Homo sapiens: one gene and its partners. The protein of the gene in region 4 interacts with the protein of the main gene of each other region in a pairwise test. Each region holds a gene or a part of one and is shown on either strand. Other genes may lie near its edges.

Region 1 (7,035 bases), on a different chromosome or scaffold from region 4:
AGGGGGCCTGGGTTGGAGGCTCTCTGTAAACAGGAGGGAGAGCTGGACCGGAGGAGCGTGATCTTCTCCTCCAGCGCTTGTGACCAAGTGAGCACCTCGGTGCATTCTTATTCTGGGGTGAGCAGTTTGGACAAAGACCTCTCTGAGCCGGTGCCAAAGGGTCTGTGGGTGGGAGCCGGCCAGTCCCTCCCCAGCTCGCAGGCCTACTCCCACGGTGGGCTGATGGCCGACCACTTGCCAGGAAGGATGCGGCCCAACACCAGCTGCCCGGTACCAATCAAAGTCTGCCCTCGCTCACCCCCCTTGGAGACCAGGACCAGGACTTCCAGCTCCTGCTCTTCCTATTCCTACGCGGAGGACGGGAGCGGGGGCTCACCCTGCAGCCTCCCTCTCTGTGAGTTCTCCTCCTCGCCCTGTTCCCAGGGAGCCAGATTCCTTGCCACAGAACATCAGGAACCAGGCCTGATGGGAGATGGAATGTACAACCAAGTGCGGCCCCAAATTAAATGTGAGCAGTCTTATGGAACCAACTCCAGTGACGAATCCGGATCGTTCTCGGAAGCAGACAGTGAGTCGTGTCCTGTGCAGGACAGGGGCCAGGAGGTAGGGAACCCACATAAATTCAAGCATGTGACCCACTCTCTAGGCCCTTTATCTGGACTACTCCCTGCCCCCCACCACTCCCACATTGTTCTTACGTGCTAAGATTAAAGATGACAGTAGAGAGACTGCCTTCCCCATCCACAGAGGCAGGATGCTGAAGGTGATTCCACATTAACCACTTCTGTCCTAGAAAAGCACTTGATATTTGATCTGGATCTCAATACTCGACAAGCAGAGGCAAGCTGCTGAGTAAAAATATACTGAAGTCTAATGCATGAAGTACACTGAGGCACTCCAGACCCCCCTCTTTCTCCTCCCTCTCTCCCCCTCCTACACCTGCTTTGAAAGGATGCCATGTTCATCACCCTCATCCTTGCCCTTCACCCGTTCAGCGTAAAGGAAGATATAGAATCTCTTTCCAGATTGATTGATTGAAACCAAATAGATCAACACTCTCCCAGCACCTTTTAGATTTTCCTTGTCAACAGAAGACCCCAGGGCCATCCCATGTCCATCACAGTGAAGGTGATGGAAGCCTCACCGTTTATCCCGGTCCTGGGGTCATCACAGAAGCACCCTAGTCAGCCACACATAATGTATAATGGATCATTTCCCAAGCTCCCTCAAATGCTAGGAAGACATTTTGAGAAGTAGTGGGGTAGAGTAGCAGTTTCATCCACCCTGAAAGCAATGTACTTGCTAGGAAAAATGTCCAGAGGCTCCATGTGTGTCTTACCATTGCTGGAAGAGGGGAACAGGGGCAACAGCAGCCACATCGTGAGCAAGACTCACAAGACTAAGGAGAGGAAAGAAGAGGCCCCTGCAGAGGACCCACCTCCCCAATAACATGAACATTCCCTAGAAAGACCTGAGAGAGTCTGTGTCGTGACCTGGCGTTCACTGCACTGTCTTGCTGATTGACAAGGTACCAGCTTGAGACTGCTACCTGTGTCTCAGACCCCCCTCAGGAGCGGGATTGAACAAACCCAGTGACAAGTCCCTTCTCAGAGCTGTGTATCCCAAAAACACAGGAAGAAATGAAACATGGTCCTCCTGAGGCCGGCAACCTTGGTACCCATCTGTGCTCTCTGGATGTTACCAGCCTCTGTAAGGCAGAGATGTTAACCCAGCCAGAAAGCAGAAATGCCATACGGGATGAGGTGGCTTTTCACAGAGCCACGTGCAGTTTATTCAGCCTCTGCAAGATTGGCGAGAAGCACATGAGGTTTTAGTTTGGGCGTGTTTTGAAAATAGATGCCAAAGGCCCCTGTGCCAACTGCAAAAATGCCCTGTGGTCACTTTCTTTGCTTGCTAGCCTGGTTTCTGCCCCTCTCTTAACTGCCTAGCAGACATGGAGAAAGAGAAACACTGCAAGGATTTAATTTAAAATAAATTAGAAAGGAAATATGAATGGGAGCTATTCCCATGCGAATATACCACCTCCCCTTAGGTTTGGGGTGGTGGGTTGTGCCCAGTGCCCCAAGCCAGGCTCACATCTGTGTCCCTGACATTGGGAAGATTGAGCTTTCCCGAAAATAGTGAAAGGCTGTGTTTTCTCTCTCCTCACTCATTCTTTCCCTCTGACCTCTTTTGTGAGGTTTTCCTTTTGTTCTGAAACCGTGAATGAGCGTGCCTGATGTGGAAGGCAAGTCACTGCGTCCACCTCATCCGCATCATGGCTTCCTACCAAGGACTGGTGGAGGGAGAAGAGCACAAAGGCCTGCAGTCTTTGTTTTTTGTCTCTCCTTTAAGAGGAGCCTGGGGCCGGGCATGGTGGCTCAGGCCTGTAATCCTAGCATTTTGGGAGGCCGAGGTGGGTGGATCACTTGAGCTCAGGATTTCAAGACCAGCCTGGGCAACATGGTGAAACCCCATCTCTACCAAAAATATAAAAAAATAGCCAGGCGTGGTGGCTCGTGCCAGTAGTCCCAGCTACCTGTGGGACTGAGGTGGGAGGATCACTTGAGCCCAGGAGAAGGAGGTTGCAGTGAGCTGAGATGGTGGCACTGCACTCCAGCCTCGGTGACAAAGTGAGACCCTGTCTCAAAAAAAAATAAAAGGCTGGCCATTAAGCTCAAGGGAGGGTGGTGTTTTTATGACATTTGCATATGTTCAAAGAACTGTCAGTTTCAGATACATCTTCTTTTGTGTCCCCCCACCCTCGCCGCCAATATCCCAAAAGAGAGCTTAAAGTCTTGGGGCCACAGCAAGAACACATTTTTTGTGTGTATGTTGGGACCATGTCAGTTGTTTACTTTAGAACTAAAAATATTAACTCAATTAAAAGGAGGACTCATTCAACCTGTAAAATAGTCATGAACAGGACTAGCCTTCCCCCCTTGAGAAATACCGCTACTTTTAAAAATACTCTTATTTTTACCTTTAAAAAAGGAATCCATGGCTGGGCGCGGTGGCTCACACCTGTAATGCCAGCACTTTGGGAGGCCGAGGCGGGCGAATCACAAGGTCGGGAGATCGAGACCATCCTGGCTAACACGGTGAAACCCCGTCTCTACTAAAAAATACAAAAAAAAAAATTAGCTGGGCGTCGTGGTGGGCGCCTGTAGTCCCAGCTACTCAGGAGGCTGAGGCAGGAGAATGGCGTGAGCCCGGGAGGCGGAGCTTGCAGTGAGCCGAGATCGCGCCGCTGCACTCCTGCCTGGGTGACAGAGCGAGACTCTGTCTCAAAAAAAAAAAAAGAAAGAAAAATCCATCTTCTGCATTCCTGAACAGTGAAAGAAGAGACATTTACCAAAGCTCTATGCCATTTTGGAAAACATAGCCCCTCTCAGTGGTACAGTTTGGACAGGACAGTTACAGTAAAGTTAAGGTTTTTCCCAATTTGACATCTTAGTTTTCCTAGAGTAGAGGAGGTTAGGTTTCCAAGAACTGTCTCAGGGACTTGCCATGACTGCTGCTCGAGGAGTTGATAACCTGCTTTAGGGAGTTACTTTGACCCTGGTTGAAGTATTATCCCCAGTAATAGTGCTCAAGGCAGATCCTTCTCCACAAGTCAAAACTTGTTTTCCTGAACTGATCCAGAAGAAGCCAGCATCTATTGGGCTAATTCTGCCCTGCCCTGCTTTCATATGGGATCCAGGTGCCTTCTCTTTCAAGTGAACCCCACGGAGACACCAGAGTCAGAAATCAAGACAGGAGTTTCCACCCCTTGCCAGACGCCAGTGTAATACTTCGCGTGTGTTTTCCCAATCTGTCTTCCTCCACCCCGTAGGGAGCCAAAACGTTAGACCAAAAGTGAAGTGTTAACATACCTTGTATTCTGTAAGATGTTGTAGTTATACCGTGTTAAGCAGCCCTTCCATCTCACAGTCGTTGGCTTCTCCCATCCTTTTTAACTGTTCCCTGGCTTCGAGAAAGATCAAATTAGCGCAGTATTATCCTTTATCAATAATCAGCTTTTTAAAATGACATTCTTTTTTAAATTCTAGAACACAGCATACCCAGCCCCAAACATACCAAATTTAACAGGCTTTCTCTTTGCCTACAACAATATACAAATATATATTCACCTCTCTATGGGTTTGGGTTTTATTTTAATGGCATTATGTTGTAGAGTTAGCAGCTTCCTTTTTTCACGTAGCTGTCTACCATGCACGTGGCTGTAGGTCGATCACACAGGGCCAAGACATGTTTCTCCAATATCTCTCGTTCTCGTAAATCGTAGTTCATTCAGCTGTCACTTATCACCAGACATTTCAGTTGTTTTCAGTTTTTCCCTCTGATAAACATTGCTGCAATAAACATTTTGTGACCCTACTGTTAGTAGTGGTGCATTTATTTTTGTGGGTTAGTTTCAAAGATGGGCTAAAGGTTGTGCCCATTTATTAAATACTACCTAATGACCTACCCAAAATGTTGTAGCAATTCACATATTCATCAGCAACTTAGAGTGTCCAATTTCCCCTATTCTTGCCCATACTAGTTGTCACCAGTCTTTTTAATTTTTGCCAATTTGATGGGCAAAAAAATGGTGACTACTAATGAGGCTGACATCTTGTTTTATGTGTATTGAACATTTATATTTCCTTTCCTGTGAATTGCTGGTTTACCTCTTTGCCTATTTTTCTTTTGTATTGTTTAACTTTAAATCAACATGTAGGAATCTTAATCCCTAATATTAGGAATATTAACCCTTTCTCATAAATGTTGCTTAGATATTCCCTTAGTCTGCTTCTTTATTTATTGTACCTTTTCCCATATAAAAAAATATTAGTTTTATGTAGTCAAGGTATAAGTCTTTTTCTTTATGACTTCTGGATTTGCTATATTCCTTAAGAAGTCAGGTTGGGAATTTTTCTCTTCCAGTAAAAAAAAATGAACAAGTCACATAAGTGAAAATCACAAAGCAGTATGCACAAGGTCCTAGTTTGTTTCCTAAATATACACACCATATAAATAAAATCAGCATAGAGAATAAGAAAAAACTGGGAGCACCGTTGGAGAGGAGTGTAGGGAAAGTTTCATTTCTATGTATGTCTGTAATGTTTGAATTTTATGTATGTCTATCTTGCACAGGTTTATTTTTTAAATTAAGACATAATTCCCATATCATAAAATCCACCCTACTAAGATGAACAATTCAGTGGTTGTTGATATATCCACAATGTTGTACAACCATCACCACTATGTAATTCTAAAACATTTTCACCACCCTAAAAGGAAATGCTGTACCTATTAGCAGTTACTCCTCATTGCCCACTCCCCTCAGCCCCAGGCAACCAGTAATCTACCTTCTATCTCTGTAGATGTACTTGTTTGGGGCATTTGTATAAATAGAATCTTGCAAGATGTGGCCTTCTGTGTCTAGCTCCTTTCACTTTAGCATAATGCTTTGAAGGTTTACCCTTGCCATTGATGTACTCACCAGGTATATTGTCATGTATTAGTACTTTGTTGCTTTTAATTCCTGAGTAATATTCCATAATGTTGATCCATTTTGTTGACTAATACCACATTTTGTTGTTCATTGGTTGAGGGCCATGTGGGTTGTTTCCACTTTGGGGCTATTATAAATAATGCTGCTGTGAGCATTTGAGTACAAGTTGTTTTTAAGACATGTTTTCAGTTATTTCCATAATATTCCTAGGAGTGGAACTGCTAAATCATATAACTTTGTATTTAACCTTTTGAGGAGCTACTAGACTGTTTCCAAAGTGGCTATACCATTTCAAATTCCCACCAGCAGTGTATCAAGGATCCAGTTTCTCTGCATCCTCGCCAACACTTGTTATTGCCCATCTTTTTTGTTAGTGCCCTCTAGTGGGTGTGAGTAGTTATGGTTTATCTCATTATGGTTTATAGGTTTGTTTTTAGATGTTGGAAATTATAGAAAATTACAGTCATTTTCCAAAGTAGTAAGCCTCTTAGTAAGACAGCTTTGTAACTGGACCATTTCTACTTAATTGTAGATTTTAGTAAAGAAGCACCACAGAGAGTTTCTTTGCACAGTCAAAAGTATGGATTTTTGGACTTGCTTTATTAACATGTTTTACACTGAGAGAGATAAAAGTGTATGAGAGTAAGAGAGTGTGTTGGGGGCAGGCAGGGGGCGGGAGAGAGAGAGAGAGAAGGGAAGAGAGAGATAAAGTCCAGAGAAAACATGGAAATGGTACAGAATAGAAGAGCCATCTGACTCTAACTCTTCCCACCCCAATGCTGACTTTGAGACACATGTTGTATGTAAAATTTTCACAATCATTTTTGTGGTTTGGTGAATCAGGCAAGTTTTTAGAAGTGTCTGTAATTGGTCTGCTTAATAAAAAGAAACCTTGCTGGGCAGCATAGAAATCAGCCATATTTCTAATTAAAACAGTGTTTTTATGTTGTCTAGAACATTGTAAGTGTCTGGAATTCCAAAGCACATGTCTGTAAGACGAAACCATGTGACAGAGATAGATAGGGCTAATAAACAGAAATAATAATACCTTGTATCTATCAGGCAGTTGAAACTTTCCCAGGCACTTTCTCCACCTGTCATCCAGTTGTATTCTTCATAGCAACCCTGTAAGCTAAGTAGGGCAGGCGTTATCGCCCTGTGACTCCTAGATCCTCCAAGAACTTTGGGACAGACAGAATGAAGACTTGCCTGAGATCACACAACTAATTAATTGACGTATCACAACTGAATCCCAGGTGTCCCATATTTGTGCTAGAAACTGGACCATGAGAAGAGGGCGTGGAAGGACAATTGCGCGAGAAACATTTCTTCACCTGGGAGGGGAGATTTTGTCATTGCCATCTGCCCAGCACTGAGCTGGCTGTCCTGGTTCCAGCAGCACTGGAATCATCTCCAATGGGCATATTGCTTCCTCCCTCGACAGCTCCCTGGGATCTGAGGGTCTCCTCAGAGTACAGGCGTTAAAGACTTCGGAGAGCTGACCACACCATCAGTGTCTCAGGGTATCATGCTAA
Region 2 (4,124 bases), about 98 Mb from region 4:
TTCTAGTACATAATTGTGAAGTGATAGCTTATTTTAATCTTGGGAATCAAAAGCATGTAGCTAAGAACTTTTCCCAAGGAATATTTTAAAATTTTTATATCAATGTTTATGGAATGACATACTTTTTGATTCAAGGTTCTTAAATGTAGTTTTAGTTTTGATTCAATGTTATAGAACACTGTTTTTTAAACTGTGATCTGAAGCCCACATGTAATGGAATCACCTGGGGTGCTTATATTAAAAAAATGCAGATTCTAGGGCTCACACCAACTAAATCTCCTGGGATTGGAGACCAGGAGGTAGCTCCTATAATCTCCACAGCTGCTTCTCAGGCACACCAAGTTTAAGAACCATTCTTTCATATTTTCAGACTGGGGATTCTTACAAAATGACAAAGAAGGAAAACCTTAATCTTTTAAAGTTAGAGTTCAAGCATTAGACTATATGCTTCTTAAACACAGTTTGTCTTTCCCATTTTCTCTTTCCAGTTCTTTATACTGTCAAGGGATTGGTGCAGAAATGGGAAACAAAGCAGTGAAAGAAAAACTATTTATTTCTTTATACACATTTTGCTTTAACAATCACCAAAAAGACTTTCATTTTCTGTCACCCACCCTGTCCACCAGTTATGTTGGCCTTCAATATATGGCGTTAGCAACATATATAAATCTATATCATATATTTATACACACAAACACATTCTACCAGCACTGTGAAGACACAGACTAGGCTTTACTAGGCTTGGGGCCTCTCCCATGCCACTTAAAAATGAGCACAGGTTTGCTCTATGCAAGAATTTCAACAGAGTTGGTCTGGCCATCAGTCTGCAATTTCCCCGAGATAAGATAGGGTGACAAAATGGGACAGCAACTTTGAAGTGAGGTCAGTCCAATTTGGATATCATAGAAGAAAAGAAATAGGATGTGCTAGGTTAAGCCTGAGATGGTATCTGGGAAGTCACCACATTCATGATGTGAACTCAAAGAACACAGGTGCTACAGTGCAGACCAAGGCCCAGCCTGACTCGACCCAACAGGGTCAGGTGTGGATCTGTGAGTAGTGCTCACTGAGCCCCCGCCAGCAGTGTCCGGCAGGGCACCGCTGCTCAGTAGTGTGCTTTTAGAACCTGCCAGAGGAGCTCCAGCATTGGGACCACGTGCCCCTTTCATCGGAATCAGGGTCCTATATTCACTGAGTTTTCCATCTCAGGACAGCTGATGAGGCAAGAAATGTGCTCTTGCTAGTTCCCAAGCTGCTGGGGCTGTTGAGAGGCAGGATCACAAAACCTTCTGTGCAAACTACGCATCTTTTTCTTAGTGCTGGGCCAAGTGGACCTTGGCTAATCGTATTCCATAGCCGTCAGAAAGGCTTTCTGCCTTTCTCCCAGCTCCACCAGGATACATCTCTGACTCCCTCTTCTGGACCCTCCCGTGGACTTGGAGGAATGAGGCCCAGATGCTCCTCAGCAGATAGGTAGCTGCACAAAAGGGGGACAGGCCCACCTTTCCTGCTGTTTTAAGGACTTCTGGTGGCTGCGCTTCTTGCATGGTTCCTGGAAGGCAAGGGTCACAAGGCTGGAGTACATGGCAGAGCCCTTAGGGATTTCACCTGCAGACAAACATAAAACAAACCAAATCAGTGTATATTGCCAGGCCCTACTGATGGCTACCTGAAGCTGGAGTGAGAGCTACGTGGTGACCAAAGCCAGGAGCACGGTGAGAGCCAGTTAAGAGGATGAGCTAAGAGCATGCGCTGCAGTCTGGAGGAGCAACAGGTGCCCGAGGTTAGGGGGAGCCTCCCCACCTCCCTGTGTGCTGAGATCCCTGCTCCAATTCACTGCACACTGGGTGGCTGGATCCTACCACTCCCCCTTCAGGGGCCAGGTGACTCTCCAAATCACTTTGTCTCAGCAGAAAGAGGCCTTTGCCATGTCCACCCAAGAAAGAAGTGCTTAGCATGAAACATGCACATATAGAAACAGCCTGTTTGTAGGAAGAAGAGGACATTTTGCTGGGAAGCCCTCTGTTAAGTTTATGTCCAGTTGCCATAATGAGGGTGTGGAGGGGCCAAGTCCACAGGGACCTCAGAGCTCAACTAAGTCCAGTTCCATCTTTGACAGATGAGGGTGCAGCAGTCTCACAGAGACTAAGGGACAAGCCAAAGCCACACAGCAGTTAGTGATAAGCCAGGGATTAGAACCGAGGCCTCGGGTCCTTTCCAGTGATCTATGGGAGGTGGAGGGGAAAGCTTCCACACTGGAGAAAGCCAGTGGATACTAGAGATTTTTGGGTTACCTTTTAGTGGATACTAGAGACTTTTTGGATTACCTTTTCTGGGACAGGAATAAGGCTTTACAGAGGCAATCCTGTAAGTGCTGCTCTAAAGAGGCTCAGGAAAGAGAAGAATTATCAGAGAAAAACAAAAGGGAATTAGTGAAAAAATAAAAAAAAGAGCAAGTTAAACTGGCCCAAGTCATTTTCACACTATGGAGATCAACATTCTCTCAGGTTATGGATTAGAAACATTTCTAGGAATATGCTGAATTGCTTATGGCAAAGCTTTGATGTCCATGTTAAAAGGTTTAGTTTCTGATTTTTAACCATTTCATATACCTCAAGTTTTTCTTCAAAGCACTTCCTAGGGAATGATTAACACTTAGTGTTTTAAGTAAATGTAGATAATGTCTGGTACATATATAACATTTTTTCCCTGAAGGTTCAGTTGTTATTTATTAACAAATTCGCTTTTAGACCAATGAGACCCAACAGATCTCTTTTGTCATGTTACTTAAAGATATAGCAAAATCAAATTGCTGTTCTTAACCCGGGAATGTGCAGTGAAATCAGTTTATTAGGTTGCAAATTGCTTTTACTTTTTCATGAAGAGTAGAACACATAACTGGCCTCAAGATCCCTCTACTAGAAGCTCATTCAGAGGCAGACTCCCGAATGTCTAATGACTTCAAGAGTCAGCTGAATTGCATTTCTCCAGTCTCTGAACTTGGCCTCAAAGAAGAAAAATTGGAGTAAAAAGGAGAGATGATGACAATGTGAGAGTGAACCAAGATACAGGGGCAGGAGCTGACGGGGTGGGAGGGTGATGGGGACAGAAACTAGCAGGATGCTCACTGAGGACCTGTGATCTTGCAAGTGGACCCCAAGTCTTCTCCTGGAAGGCCAAAGCAGGCCAAGGGTCACCTACAAGATCTGCTAACGGATGGTGATGGGTGGGGGACAGGCTTGGTGCCTCTGACTGGTGCAGTAGTTTCCTTACCTCTAAGTTAGTCCTTGCCTTCTTTAAAACATCATGTGTTCTGGTTACTGAAACAACAAAAGAGCACCACAGAGTAGAAACCACCAGCAGAAATTAACCCTACTTGCTTAGCATGAGAATTCTAAAGCATTTATTTCTTTCTGGCTATTCAGCTTGGAGTCTCCTTCTATCCACCCCCTGTCCTCCCCTCCCTCTGCAGCCACAATTGCTCCTGGTACAGGAGGTTTGGGGACATCAAATCAGTCTCAACTCCCAACATCCCCAAGCCCCCCTGGTCACTGCTCATCTGCAGCACAAGTGGGGCATCGGGAAGACTGCCTGTTTCTTCCCCCATTCCCTCTCAGGGAACCTACGCTGGCTGACGATGAACTGCTCCATGCTCTCCTTCTGCTGGTTGGCGTTCTTCAGATGCTCAGTTGTGCTCTGAAGGAGTCGCTCCTGTTTGGATACTTTGGTTCTCAGTTCCAGAAGTTCCCTTTCTGTTGATTCTCCCTGGATAAGAGGAACAGACTCTTACTGACCAGGCAGAAGGCCTAAAGCACCCTGTGCTTTGTGGCTCTTTCCAATTCAAAGAAGGATTCTACAGTCTTCTCAACTCTCTTGAACTGGATTTCCTCCTTCACAGCCTCGGATACCTCCAGCTGAGGACAGTTCAGGATGAGGCCATTAGGCAGGAATAATGAGACTCTGGAATTCCCCATGCAGACTAGCACAGGCCTACACACCTGTAGCTTAAGAGAACCTCGCCTCAGGCTGGTATCAAACTCCCAACTCTGAAGAGGACCTTGCTTTAGTCCTGATATCAGTTCTGTCACTCTCCCTTCACAGGTAAGATTGAGAGTTCAGAAGTG
Region 3 (7,035 bases), on a different chromosome or scaffold from region 4:
CAAGTGCAATTCCAGTACTAAACCAGACATCATTTTCATCCACCATGGCCCTCAAAATACAAGGCAACTACTTCAGCAAGTACTCAACTGAAGCCTCATCACTCTGTTAGGAGATAGCACATCTGTCTCCAATCTGGTGCCTCCCTAAGGGACATTCACAAGGGATTTCGACTTTGTGCAGCCTTGGCCCCATTTGCCAACTTTCGACTCCAACCCCCACCTAAGTTGCAACTCCACTGTGTCAATTCATCACTGTAGCTCATAAGCCTCTGGGCTGTTTACATCTTTTTGATACCCCTGTGAGGTTCCTGGGGGACAGGAGGCTGGGGTACAGGCCTGACCCTCCTGGACGCTGGGTTAAGTGATGAATTTTGGGACTGATGTGCCTCCTTCTGGGCCAACCCCAGGGTGTTCCAGGCTTAGAGCCTTCAGGGAGAAGGCCAATAGCCCACTCACCTTTGGCCTCTCAAATCCCATCCATAAAAAACAGCAGAAAAAAAAAGGAGATGCACAGAAATAATTTAGGAGATCCCCCCAACACACACACACACACACACACACACACACACACACACACACACACACACAAAACCTCTGTATAAATAAATAATTCAATACTGCTAATGGCGAGAAAGAGAGACAGTCATCAAATAAATAAATAGATAAATAAATAAAATAAATAAAAAGGTTTGCTAGGAGCCCCAGGCAAAATGGTCCCCTAGAGTTGTCTTGATGAAGGCAGTCCGAACGTGAGGTTCTGATGCCTCTCACAGCTGTCCTGCTAAGAAGGTTTTTGGTGGCTCTGGGAAGCCTTTGTCTCCATGGAGGGAGACTGAAGTCCAGTCTGGGTTCCTGGGCAGGGACGAGGGTTATTTACAGTGGCTGTACTTGCCCTCCCCGGGGCACCTGCCCCTGTCCCAGGCACCTGCCATCTGGCCTTCTGCAGTGACAGCACTGGCATCCATTAGTCTTTGTGGGCAGGGCTTAGGTCTGGGCCAGAGGCCCGGTATGGGGAGGCTGGGTCGTCCACTGCTGCCCGGGGCCCTCACTCCTGTCTTCTGATGGAGGAAGGGCTGTCGTGGTGGTGGTTGCATGGCAGTCTCTAGCCCCATGGGTTGATAGGATGGGAAAGATTGGGTAGGGAGACGTCACTGCTTCCAAGAAAAAGGACTATTTTCCAAATGTTTTCCCTGGGGTGGGAGGGATAAAGAATGTTTGGCCCTTGCTTCCCCATAACCCAAAATATCCAAAAGCTGGGACCGGTCCTCTCTCCCTCGCTCCCTCCGTGCCCTGTCCTGCTGCTGTTGCCACCACAAACTTGAAACTCACCCACAAGCCTCCGGAAAGCCAGTCAGCTGGTGAGGGGGATGCCCAAGAGTTTATTTTAAGGATCTTATTCCTCACCTCCCCGTTCTTAGCGCCTTCTGTGGATGAAGCAGCTGGTGGTATTTGTGGATCGGAGATCAGCTTACCCTCTCTGCCCAGCCCCAGCCAGGGGGGACTTGGGGTGAGGGCAAAAATAAAGGTGGGTCTTTCCCAAGCTGACAAGAAACCTCAGAAGCCAGCAGGAGCCCAAGACATGGCATATCCAAGCCCCTCTCCCCTGCACTCTGGATTCGGGTCTTTTCCCCCAAACCTGAGCTGCTGTGCCCCATCCTGGCAAAATTCCTGAGAGGCAAGGGGAGTGGCTTAAGCTGAAGGGTGGGTGGGTAGGTGCCAGGCTGCACTGGGTGGCATCCAGGGCGTGGCAGCCTGGGCAGAGGGGAGGGGGCTGGCAGGCGCCAACCGGAGGGTAAGGCCAGACTGGCTGGCGCTGGGGCCTGGCAACTGGCCATGGCACTGGGGAATGTTCAGCAGATGGTCCCGTGGAATTAAGTTGGTGCCAGCTAGTGGGGCTGAGGCATATTTGGGAAGTGGGGCTGGAGACCAACCTGTCCTGACTCTTCCACTATCTCCTTTCTCGTGAGGTTGCAGGGCCCCTGTGAATGGCCAAGAGGTGTTTTGTGTCAGCCATGCAGTGGCCTCTTCACAGCTGGGATCTGCTGGGCTCTGTCCCCTTACCATGCTGAGGTATTGGGAGCAGCAGCTGAACCCTTCCGTTTTTCTATCTATCATCTTAACCAACTCCTATCTCCTGACACCTCCCACCAAGTCAAACGTCCCCATCTGGTATTCAAGGATATCCCTTCTTCTAGGACCCAAATGTCTTCCAGCCTTTGCTTGGGCCTGTTTGAGGAAGTTAAAGGCCTGACCCCGTTATCTTGAACCTGAACTGCCATTGGTCTCCTCTTTCACCCCTCTCAGACATGGGGGTCCATCCACGTGCAGCCATGAAGTTGGACTAGTGGGGCATCCGGGGAGGTGGGGAGAATTACCACGGGCCTCCTGTGAGCAGTGGAGGAGAAGAACTGTCTCCACATTTTCCTGGCCAGGGCTCAATTTTTGAGTCACAGACCCATTGCTTCTCACAAAACCTTGAAGTTTTCTTTTCTTTCTTCTTTTTTTGTGCCACAAGATGATGGTTCTTTCCATATGCCCAGGCCTGAGCTGGGCCCCAGGATGATGCTGGTAGAGGCTCCTAGCAGGCTGATCTAGAGAGTGAAGCCCCCTTACCCTCTTCTCCTCTTCCCCTAGGCAAGCAGGAAGGACAAGGTATAGGAGCCCTCACTATTTGTCACCAAGAAGGCGGGGAGGGCAGGTGGTTGGGGGAGGCTGGCAGCGCGAAGGGGCCCCCACGGGCAGCTGGCTCAGGGGCACTTAGCGCCTCGTGCTGGAGTAGCTGTCTGCTGAGCTGTAGCTCCGGCTCTGGCTCCTGCTCCGGCTCCGGCTCCGGCTCCTGCTCCGGCTCCGGCTGCGGGAGCCCGGACTAGGGCTGCGGGAGCTAGAGCTGCTGCTCGTGCGGGTCCGGCTCCGTCTCCGGCTCCGGCTCCGACTCCGGCTCCGGGAGTAGCTGCGGCTGGCCGAGCGGCTACTGCTGCTGCTGTACCAGGAGGAGGTGCTGCTGAGGCTGCCGGATGAGGAGGGGCTGGGCCGATAGTAGGGGATGGGGCGTTTCCGGGCACTGCAGAGACCAGAGAGAGGAGGGATGAGGGCCGGCCCCTCCGTGCCTCCCCGCAGCGAGCCCCAGTCTTGTCCCAAGGGAAACCAATATCCTCCCTTTCCCCAGTCCCTTAGGAAAAAATACTCCCTTTCCACTTCTCTTGCAGTGCTGAGAACACATCAAAGTAAAAGTCTCAGCTTAGTGCTAGTATGTCTTGAAAAATGATTATCTCACTTTTTTCTTTCCCCCATGAAGCAAGCCTGGAGCTCAGAGCCTTCAGCTTGCAACAGAATCTACATCTAAACTTTAATCATAGTTTTGTTTTCCTATTTTTACTTTTACTAGAACCATCTATTTATGGCAAAAGAGGCTAATTTTCCATTTACTGTACTGTATCGTTTCCTTTAGAAATAAATGTATGAACCTTTGAAAAGAGTCATATCTATTTAAAGAAAATTAAGAATAGTACAGTTGATAAACAGACAAGTCATATGTGGTCAAGATACTGGTGAATGACTAAAGATTGGGAAACACTGAATGGGTTAATCAAGATGAATTATTTGAGATTGACTAAAGAAACTAGACAGCCATTTGGAAATGCCACTCTCTATCTTAGCTTTCCTCTAGGTTGACCCCAAAGATAATAATAATACCAACAACTTCTATTTTGTGCTTATTATCCTGGCCACTTAATAGCTGTGTGACACTGGATCAAGGGAGTGGGTTTAGAAATTATGCTAGGAATTATATTGTATTATATTATATTAATTACATTTTTTCAGACAGGGTCTCGCTCTGTCACCCAGGTTGGAATGCAGTGGTGCGATCTCGGCTCACTGCAACCTCCACCCCACTCCAGGCTCAAATGATCCTCCCACCTCAGCCTCCCAAGTAGATGGGACCACAGGTGCACACCACCATGCCTGGCTAGTGTTTTGTATTTTTGGTAGAGACAGGGTCTTGTCATATTGCCTAGGCAGGTCTCAAACTCCTGAGATCCAGCAATCCGCCTGCCTTGGCCTCCCAAGGGTTTAGGAATTCTTTACAAGCTGAGGCAGGGTGCCCTGTGGGATATTGGAGAAGGGGACCCATCACCCCAGCCTTGCTATCTGGGAAACACATTCTTTTTCCTCCTCCAGGTCATCTCCAGGGAGAATCCCTGATTCCTCAGTCCAGTGTCTGGACTGAGTGGCAGATGCCTGGAAGGCCAGCAGGAAGAGCCCAACCCAATCTTAGGGCAGCATTCAATCATTCTCCCAGCTTTCAAGGCCTGAGAAATTTGCTTGCACTCAGACTTCTCTGCTAGAGCTTTTCTCTTCTGAGGCCTTACCTGTTCCAGGAACGGTATCCACCTATTCTGACCATTCAATCAACAATGGCACATTGTGTACTCTGCATTCAAGTTTACAAAGCACGTTCACATCTTTTTGCCCCTTTTCATTTCATCCTCATGCTTCTGGGAGTTATTTCTTCCAATATCTCATGGGTGAGAAAACTGAGGCTCAGGAAGGTAAGAGCCTTTCCTAGGTCACCTGCAAAGTGGTACATTCAGGATTCCAATCCACATCCAGTGCTCTCCGGCTTATCCACCGTGGCTCCCTCTAGGTCCCTTTGGGAACTAAGCAATCCTGTTTGTCCTTTCCACACTTGGTTCAAGGTATAATTACATATAGGTTTATTTAAGCCTGACAGCTGAGTGTACAGGTCTGAGGGTAGAGGTCTGTCTCCGCTGCTCGGGATCCACCACCAGGCCAAGGTCCTGCTCCATTGCTTTGGCCTCCATTCCCTGGCCTGACGCCACTCTCTCCCCCAGCTCCGCCTCCCCGGCCCCAGCTCCACCTCCCCGGCCCCAGCTCCACCCTCAGGCTTTGGCCACTCCCCCATGCCACACCCGATTCTTCAGGCTGGCCCCGCCCCCTTCTTGCAGGCCCTGCTGGTTGAGCTGGGAGACTCAGTCCCAAGGCTTTGAACAGACACGTAATTTCAATGATGTTGGGGTTGGGGGGACCATAAGCTCGCACAATCCTAAATCCCAGCCCCAAGGAGGCCTAGGGAGAGCCTGAGGCTCGAATGAGTAAGAATGGGAGTGGGAACGAGGATGAAGGTGGGTCCCCCTTGCCCCCTGGCCTCACCTGGTTATCCTCCGGGCCTCCAGGTGGCTCGGGGAGTCTCTCCGGCGCTTTCTCATAGGCGAGTAGGACCGACGTCTCCGACGCGCTCGCTCGCGCTCCCGCTGCTGCGAGTCCTTCTCACTGTATTTGGGATCCCGCTCCCTGAAGGGGCGCGGGGGGTTACTGGGGAGCTGGGGCTGGGCTGGATTTTCTGCGTGAGCGCGTGGGAGAGGGACACTCCCTTTCTTTCCCACCCCACTGGGTCACGGGATGGGGTCTGCACGTTGCCGCAAGGGAGACCGGAGGGAGGATGACGGGGCTGCGGTAAGAGTCTGCGAGGGTTGTTAGTACCGTAGGGGTGGGGGCTGGGCTTGTGCAGGGGTGTCAGCATTTGCAGGTGGGCATCATAGCAGGGCAGGTGCTGCAGGGGTGAGGACGTGAATGTTACGCAGGCCCTGGTGCGTGGGTAAGAACTGGGGGCTCTGAATATGGGGACGGTCTGTAGAGGCTGAGGGCTGGGGATGTGAATTCTGGGGTATGTCTGCGGGACTGTTTGGGCTGGAGACATTAGGAAACAAGGGTATTTGATGCCTCGCTGCCACTCCTGATTGGACAAAGGGAACTGTAAGAATGCTGAGTCAGGGTCAGACCTAAGAGGAAGAAGGCCCGAGAACGGGGAGGCGGGGCCAGAGAGGAGGATCAGAGCAAAGGGGTGGGGCCTAGGACGGGCCTAGTTTGAGGGGCGGGGCCGGTACCTGCTGGGGCTGTAGCGGGAGTAGCTAGGGCTGCGGCGGGACCTAGAGCTTCTGCTGGGCGGGCTCCTCTTGCCAGACTTGGAGGAATAGCTGGGAGAGCGGGAGTAGGACCTGGGGGAGAGGTAACAGCCTCTGAGGAGCCTGCTGAGTGTCCGCCTGGGTTATCCAAGACGGCTTGAGCTTTATTCAGCGGGTCCCTGGGCAGTGACCTTTTTCTTTCTGGAAGCCAGGCAGAGGAACTGGGCCCCGATCAAAGAATGAAAGCCCCTCCCCACCGGTGGTTAATAATAATACCAACAACTTCTATTTTGTGCCTACTATCCTGGCCACTTACTAGCTGTGTGACCTTGGCAGATGATTTCGTTTCCCTGGGCCGTTTTCTTGTCTATAAAATGCAGGTAATAATAGTCCTTACCCTAGACAATTGTAAATTGAATGAGTGAATTCGGGTAAATCACATAGCATATTGGCACCTATGCTAAGTATCAATTAGACAGGACATAGGAAATGTTAGCTATGACTATGACATATTTTATTATGTGCCAGACATTGAACCAGTGCTTTGTGTGTATTATTTAATCCTCAACACATCTTAGGGTTAGGTACTATTATCAATTTCATTTTATAGATGGGGAAACAGAGGCACAGAGAGATGATGCACTTCGCTAAACACAGCTGGTAAGAGATGTGAACCCAGGACTGTTTGCCTCTAAGCCAAATTTAATTCACGTCTGTTTGGTTTCAAAGTGCTCTTGATTTTTGTAGACTATATTGTTGTGCATCTACATGACTAATCCTTATGCTCCTCCTAGTCTTCTTTGCTTTCTGTTAATGCCTCCCACTTTTAGAAAACAGGGGCAGGAATAGCTCTTCCCTTCTCAGTGCCCTCAGCAGTGTCCAGCTATGGTCACTGGAAAAATGTGCTTTTGCCAACTTATGCTTTGGCTATGCATTGAGAGATATAAGAAAGAGTCAAGATGAAACCTGTTTTTGGATACTTTGAAAGGATATTATCAGAATTTCCATTCACTGCACCATATAGAGTCCCTTTTCTGTGGAGCCATCTGAGTCATTTTTCATAGAATTAAAAACCTGAAATAGCTGCTCTTCTGAGCAACTGGTTCAATTC
Region 4 (7,111 bases):
AATTTTTTTAATTAAAAAACTAAATATATATATAAAGTGGATTTAAAATATCTACATATATTTAAAATATCCACTTCTTTCTTTGCCTCTTTGTAAATATTTTATCTTTAAAGCTCTATTGATGAAATACATTTTATGTTTACCTAAGGCACCAATAAATGAACAAAGCTTTGCAAGAGGACAGCCCAGGGAGGAGCAGCGCTAACTGGAACACAGATATGTTTGACTCACATGTCAAGTAAGACCATCTCTCAAGCAGGAGATTCCCTGGTCCCCGGTCTCCTCATTGGAGAGACCACGTACTCAAGGACCAACCTCCCAGCGCAATGCACTGTGGCCCACTGTGTGCCTAAGGTGCAGTTTGCTTGGCAGGTTTTTGTGTCATCTTCCTGGGAAGAAATTTTCTTGTTCTTTAAGGTTGTTTTTCTCCCTTCACAAGTGTGAAAGAATCCAGAGGGCAGGAATCATTTCTGTCTCTCCCTCAAAATACCAGCATTGGATTGGATGACACCAGTGTCTCTCCCAGTGTCCCCACTGTGTCCTCCCACCCCATCCTGCTCAGGGAAGTACTCAATGCCCACCCTCCCCCAGAAACCTGTGCCGTGTCCCCACTGTGCCCCAAATGCATTTTGCTTTTCAGGTTCCTGCCTCACTGCGGGGCGGGGTTTCCTTGTACTTTGGAATAGCTGTTCTCCCTTCACAAGCATGAGACAATCCAGAGGGCAGAAATTCTTTCTTCCCTCAATACCAGTATCCGACTGCCTGACCAGCATTTTGTCTCTAAGGAGTGATAACGGGGGTAAGAGAAGAAAAAAAAATCTAAGTCCTAGTGGATTAGCTTTTTAGAGGAAGAGTATAGAAGAGTATCCCAGGAGACTCCTCTCGGTCCCAGGGGATTCATGCCATCCAGCTGCTCCTCTGAGAGGCTCCACCCCTAAACCTCACCTTGTCTTCTGGGAGAAGAGGACCCAACAGCTGACATTCACTATTTATGACACTCCAAGAGACAGGGCCAGTGTGGGCACATTAGGTCATCCTCAAACAGTTTTGAACCCAGGACCCAGAAAAGACAGGAGGGTGGCTGAGGACACAACACCACGTGAAGGTTCCAAAGGGAAACCTCCATCCAAAGACGTTTGTGAGTGTGCCTAGGGAAGACAAAAGGAGGAGAGGTACAAAGAATTTTTTATAGTGGACTAGATCAGGTGATTATTCTCTGTTTTCACAAGGAATGTTCAGAAACAGCTCCTCACTGCTCAGTGAAAACATGATAAACAATTACATTACTGCATCTGGTTCAAATGCACAATAAAGAACAAATAATTAATAATGTTGTAAATTGGAGAGGTGAAGTTGGAGTTTGAGAGTATGAGGAAGAAACTGGAAATTTAGAATTTTACTGCAAGTTCTAGAAGTTAGGCTGGGGAATACGGTCATGGATTTGAGACCCTGCTTGCCTTACATTTGGGAAATGCAGGGGAAACCAGTACCCTTGTGGAAATAATTAAATAGGAAGAAATTAGACTGAAGTTGTAGCAGGGCAAGCTGCAGACAAAACCCCTCAGACACCGAGTTAAAGAAGGAAGGGCTTCATTCTGCCGGAAGCTTTGGCAAGACTCACGTCTCCAAAAACCCAGCTCCCCAAGTGAGCAATTCCTGTCCCTTTTAAGGGCTTACAACTCTAAGGGGGTCCACGTGAGAGGGTCGTGATCGATTGACCAAGCAGGGGGTACATAACTGGGGGCTGCATGCACCGGCAATCAGAACGGAACAGAACAGGACAGGGATTTTCACAGTGCTTTTCCATACAATGTCTGGAATCTATAGATAACACAACCGGTCAGGTCAAGGGTCAATCTGTAACCAGGCCCAGGACGCGGCGCCGGGCTGTCTGCCTGTGGATTTCATTTCTGCCTTTTAGTTTTTACTTCTTCTTTCTTTGGAGGCAGAAATTGGGCATAAGACAATATGAGGGGTGGTCTCCTCCCTTAAGTGATGATGGTGCCCTGAGTTCCTCACCAAGAAAACCTAAAGGTACTTCATGCCTTTCTTGTAATTAACTTGAAGGGAAAGAAAACTTAACCCCAAATCAGCAATTTACCTCTGATTACATAACCAGGAACCATCCACCTAAATAATCCGAATAACAGAACTACATAATTATAACCAATCAGTTATTAAATTGGGGTTGCTTTGGGCTGGGCGGGGTAATCCCAGCACTTCGGGAGGTTGAGACCAGAAGTTCAAGACCAGCCTGGGCAACACAGGGAGACCCCCCCCCCGCCCCACCCGATCATTAAAATAAAAAATAAATAAATTTGGTTTGTTTCCTTACACACTTTACAGAAGCCTTTCCATCAAGACCGTCCGGTGGCCCACAAACCAAAAACCGTGGCTGGGTGCTCCCCTACTCATGAATCGCTGTTTGCTCAAACTCTGTAACGCTTTAATTAAACCTCAGTTTAATTTTTAACAGGATTAAGGAGGGACTGGAAACGCCAGTGGCCACAGCTCCTCGCAGGCGCGAGCCCGCACACCGCGCTGGGCCTCTCCCCTGAGGCGCCTCGGGTCTCACTGCAGGATCCCGAGGAGCCGCGGGGCTGCGGGCGCGGGCCGGGGAGGGAAGCTGCTTCGGGCAGGACGGAAGTCGCGGTGCAGAGACGGGACCGGAGCCCGGGGTGCCGCTGCCCGCCCAGCTCTGCCGGGCGCCAGAAAGGACCGAGGGCCGCGCCGCGCCGCGCCAGCAGGGACCCGGGTCCGCCCTCGGGAGCCGACCGCTGGGAGCCCGGGGCCCGGGGCCGCCACAGCCCCTTCCCTTCTCCAGACCCCCGGCGGCGCAACTCACCATTTCCCAGCTTCCGGGGTGTCCCGACATCCTCCCTGCGAATCCCCCAGTACATGCAGGTCACAGGAGGGCCCCGGCTGCGGCAGAGCCTCCTGAACCGCCGAGAGTGAAGGAGAAGCGCAGGGCTACTGACCGAGACACGCACGTGCGGGCACGAGAGACAAAGGCCGGGCACACCCGGAAGCCGCCTCGGGTTTTCTAGCGGAGCGCCGGATTAGGCAGTCCCCGCCCCGGTGCCCCTGATTGGGTAGGGCCTCAGGCCCCGCCCCCTCAGACTCTTAGTGACAGGTGACAGCTCCCGCGCGTGTCTGAATGAGGCAGCGTTCTGGCTACAGCTCTTCTCCAAGAGGGTTTCCTCTCTGGGTTGGGACCCAGCCTTGCCTAGGGGACATTCATTTATATACACTTAACCTTGTATACAATGTTACATTCATTTGTGAATAATATATATGATATTTAAAATAGGAAACAATATAATAATAATTCTTTTAAAATTTCAGACTTATTAACCTTCATGGCCTCTGGTCTTCTGAGGAAGCAGTCTGAGGAGCCCGAGTTTTGAAAAGGGAAGCAATCCTCCAAGGCTGCGATTTCCACAGAAATCACATGTGAGCCACAGGTGTCATTTTAAAATTTCTAGTAGCAACAGAAACGAGGAATAAACAGGTAAAATTGATTGCAATACTTTATTTAACTCAATATATACAAAATATTATAATTTAAATATATGATAAATATAATATTAATGAAGTATTTTTTGTTGTTCTGTTTTTTGGTACTAAATCTTTCAAAGTCACTCTGCGTTTTAAACTTCCAGCATGTACCGATTCAGACCAGCCACATTCTAGGTGCTAAGTAGACCCCTGTGGGCAATGACTGTCACACTGAAGTGCAGTTTTGAGGGCTCTGGTTCCCCTGACCTCAGGGAGTGAAGGGCCCGAACCCCTCTTTTCTGCTAGAGGTGAGGGAATGCCCTCCTTCTGCTAACATCTCTCCTCAGGCCCAAGGGTGGCAGAGACAGTGCCCAGAGAGAGAAGTGGGCTGCAATAAAGAAGTATCTAGAGGGAGTCTACTATTTCCCACCTGCTCTTGCCAGGGGCCCAGCCTCTTCTATAGATAAGACAGTGAAAAAAAGATGAGGGGCCCCAGGAGAAGAAAACCCATGTCTTCAGATTTGTCCACAGCCTTAACCTCAGGACTTTAGATGTAGAGGGAATACATTAAAGACAAACTTCTCATTTTGCAATTTGGCTTTGGCCCTAATGGTCAGGCTGTGGTTTTCTGTTTCCTCCTGTGGTGTGGAATTTAAGTGTGTGAGTTTAAGCACAAATCACATGCATGTCTACGTGCACTTCTGTATGGCTCAACACCGTCTAACCAGAAATCCAACTTTACATAAAGGGAAAAGGAAATCAGTACATACAGGGTGCCTTGTGTTTGCCTGGTAAATTGCAATCAACATGTCATTGAATCCTGGCATCCTGTCTGCACTAGGTGTACGTATTACCTATTGCTTCACAGTAAAATTCCCCAAAACGTATTAGATTGAGCTGGTCCACCTTCTAGGCTGGGCTCAAGTGAGCCATTCTTCTGGTCTCTGCTGGGCCCTTTCAGGCACGTGTGGTCAGCTGCTGGTTGACTAGGCAATGCTGCTTCTGAGGGTGAGCTGCCTGTCAACTGTGGCACTTTGGTTTTCCTCCCTATAGTATCTCATCCTCTAGCAGGCTAACATGGACTTGTTATTATGGAGATGACAGGGTTGTGAAATAAAAAGCAGAAGCATTCAAGAGCTTTTGTGCCTCGGCCCCAAACTGGCACATGGTCATATTCACAGCTTTCTACTGCCAGAGCAAATAAGGCCAGTGAGATTCAAGGTTTGGGAAACAGATTCTGCCTCTCAATGAAAGCAGCTATAAAAGCACATCACAAAGGGCATAAATACAGGAAGGGATGAAGAGTTGCTGCCATTTTTGCAATCAGTATCATGCCTTTTCTTGCAGATGAGGTTTATATAACTTTCCAAGACAAGGAAGTTGTGCAAAGCCTCACAGCTACTAAGAGGCTGGGCTGGGACCAGGATTAACTTTTCGTGACTCCAAAGCCCATGCACCTCTGCAAGCCACACGAATCAAGCAGCTTCTCTAAACCTTTGAAGTCCTGGAAAGTAACTCTTCTGCAATAGAAGCAAGAATCCTGTGAGATTGGGATCCATCTAGTACTCTTCACCATTTGGAACAACTGCCTCCAGAGAATGCTTCTGACACATCTTGGAAGAACGTGGAATAACTTGAGGAAATGGTCGATTTGCTAATTTAGGAAACCAATGTTCGATATTACATATTTTTTATTTCTTTTCATAGGATAAATTTAAAAGCACAGATGACGCACTCCACATGAACGCAAATCCTATTCATCCCTTTTTGTTGTTTGTAGGCTATTTATGATTTTCAACAAAGACTAAATCAAACCACTGTGTCTGAAATAACCTCTTACTCTGAAAGCAAGTGACATGAAAATAGACCTGCTGAGAAAAATTTCTTCCTGCTGCAATTTAACGAAACAGCTGACTACAATTTGAAGCCATTCTTTGATTTTTTTTTTTTTTTTTTTTTTTAAGATGGAGTCTCGCTGTGTCATCCAGGCTGGAGTGCAGTGGTGTGATCTCGGCTCACTGCAAGCTCCGCCTCCCGGGTTCACGCCATTCTCCTGCCTCAGCCTCCCGAGTAGCTGGGACTACAGGCGCCGGCCACCATGCCCGGCTAATTTTTTTGTATTTTTAGTAGAGATGGGGTTTCATCGTGTTAGTCAGGATGGTCTCCATCTCCTGACCTCGTGATCAGCCCGCCTCGGCCTCCCAAAGTGCTGGGATTACAGGCGTGAGCCACCGTGCCCGGCCCATCCTTTGATTTTTAACAAGGCAAGCTTGTTTTCCAAGACCTCAAATAGATCATGTGAGTGTCAGGGCTACTATATTGACTCAGAAGGTGGACCATATCCTCTGTTTGGAGATGGAGTGGTGAGAGGGCCTGCACCAGCATGTGAAGACCTTAGGTCCATAGGTGAGATTCAATCATCAGGTGTGGTGTTTTAGGGTCCTGATGTTTATGCAAAAGTTATGTGTATATTACTAAAGGTAAATTGTAGAACATTACAAATAATCATATATAAACCAAAAATGTCAACTACAATTGTCATTATGCATTATTATTCTAAGTATTTTTACCACAATTAGAAGTAGTAGCAGTTGTTGCTGCTGCCGCTGCTGTTGTAGGAATGGAGATGAAAACATGGAATAAAGCTCTGCTGCCTGGTCATTCTGCTGCTCCTACGGCTGCAGATGTGCTAGTTCTGCGCAGACTTTAGACTTCTGTTGTGAAGCTGTAACTTAAGAGACTTTCAGTGCTCTGCTGTGGCAGGAAAAAAGTTTGAGTCAAGACAGAACAACAATTCTGTGAATTTGAAGGTGGAGGGTAGGATGGTTCTGGGGCGCAGTTGAAGGGGAAGAAGTACACATCACTGAATGAAGGAGTGGAAGCCTATGGTGAATGGCAGGGTTTGGCCATGAAGCAAATCAGATTTGGATTTTACGGACGGTCACTCAGTGAAACTGACACACCTGCAAAGCGGGAAATGGAGGACGAATAAACAGGTGATGTGTTCCAGCAGCAGACAGGAGGGCCTTCTAAGAACACACCTGCTCCTTTACCCAGGACCTCTTCCTACAACTCCAGCAGACATTCTCATGTAGAAACCCACAATGTGATTTCATCACATTCTGACTCCACATTCTGACACCACATTCTGACTCCACATTCTGGCTGGTACAGTATCCTTTTCTCCATTCTCTTATCTTCCCCTTCCTCATTTCATTATTGCACATAAAGCATCTGGGGTAGGCACACAAGCATATTGCTATTTTTGTTTGCTTGTTTGTACTAAATGACATGTGTTGATCCGCAGCCAAATGAGACGGGGCAGAAAAATACTGGCCCCGTGAAGACTGTTTCTCCACCAGTGGCTGCTCACTCAGCTCTTATCTCTGTATTTCAGGACTTAAACAACAATAACAAAAAACCATAATACCCTTGCATAGATTGTTCAATTGGTGAATTTCAATGTTTTTAATATAGCATTGTAAAACCAAAAACAATTTCATAACTTTTTTATCTACGTAGTTGTTACACATAGGGCAAATCTGTATATAGGACTATGTATATAGGACTATATATATACGCGTGTGTGTATGTGTATATATATATAGTCCTA

Evidence for each region.
Region 1: the proteins of ZNF124 (region 4) and BACH2 interact in binary tests that used the Homo sapiens proteins (3 or more experiments, as listed by UniProt).
Region 2: the proteins of ZNF124 (region 4) and PDE4DIP interact in binary tests that used the Homo sapiens proteins (3 or more experiments, as listed by UniProt).
Region 3: the proteins of ZNF124 (region 4) and SRRM4 interact in binary tests that used the Homo sapiens proteins (3 or more experiments, as listed by UniProt).

What each region holds. Positions count from the first base shown.
Region 1 is NC_000006.12:89,943,838-89,950,872, reverse strand, and holds part of BACH2 (transcription regulator protein BACH2), read left to right. Parts: coding exon 1-603; intron 604-7,035. UniProt on the Homo sapiens protein: Transcriptional regulator that acts as a repressor or activator. Binds to Maf recognition elements (MARE). Plays an important role in coordinating transcription activation and repression by MAFK.
Region 2 is NC_000001.11:149,029,428-149,033,551, reverse strand, and holds the end of PDE4DIP (myomegalin), read right to left. Parts: intron 3,766-4,124; coding exon 3,627-3,765; intron 3,321-3,626; coding exon 3,274-3,320; intron 2,380-3,273; coding exon of another isoform or gene 2,328-2,379; intron 1,609-2,327; coding exon 1,567-1,608; coding exon of another isoform or gene 1,463-1,566; 3' UTR 536-1,462; downstream 1-535. UniProt on the Homo sapiens protein: Functions as an anchor sequestering components of the cAMP-dependent pathway to Golgi and/or centrosomes.
Region 3 is NC_000012.12:119,152,521-119,159,555, reverse strand, and holds part of SRRM4 (serine/arginine repetitive matrix protein 4), read right to left. Parts: intron 6,018-7,035; coding exon 5,907-6,017; intron 5,314-5,906; coding exon 5,173-5,313; intron 3,062-5,172; coding exon 2,758-3,061; 3' UTR 1-2,757. UniProt on the Homo sapiens protein: Splicing factor specifically required for neural cell differentiation.
Region 4 is NC_000001.11:247,169,003-247,176,113, forward strand, and holds the start of ZNF124 (zinc finger protein 124), read right to left. Parts: upstream 3,019-7,111; 5' UTR 2,876-3,018; coding exon 2,846-2,875; intron 1-2,845. UniProt on the Homo sapiens protein: May be involved in transcriptional regulation.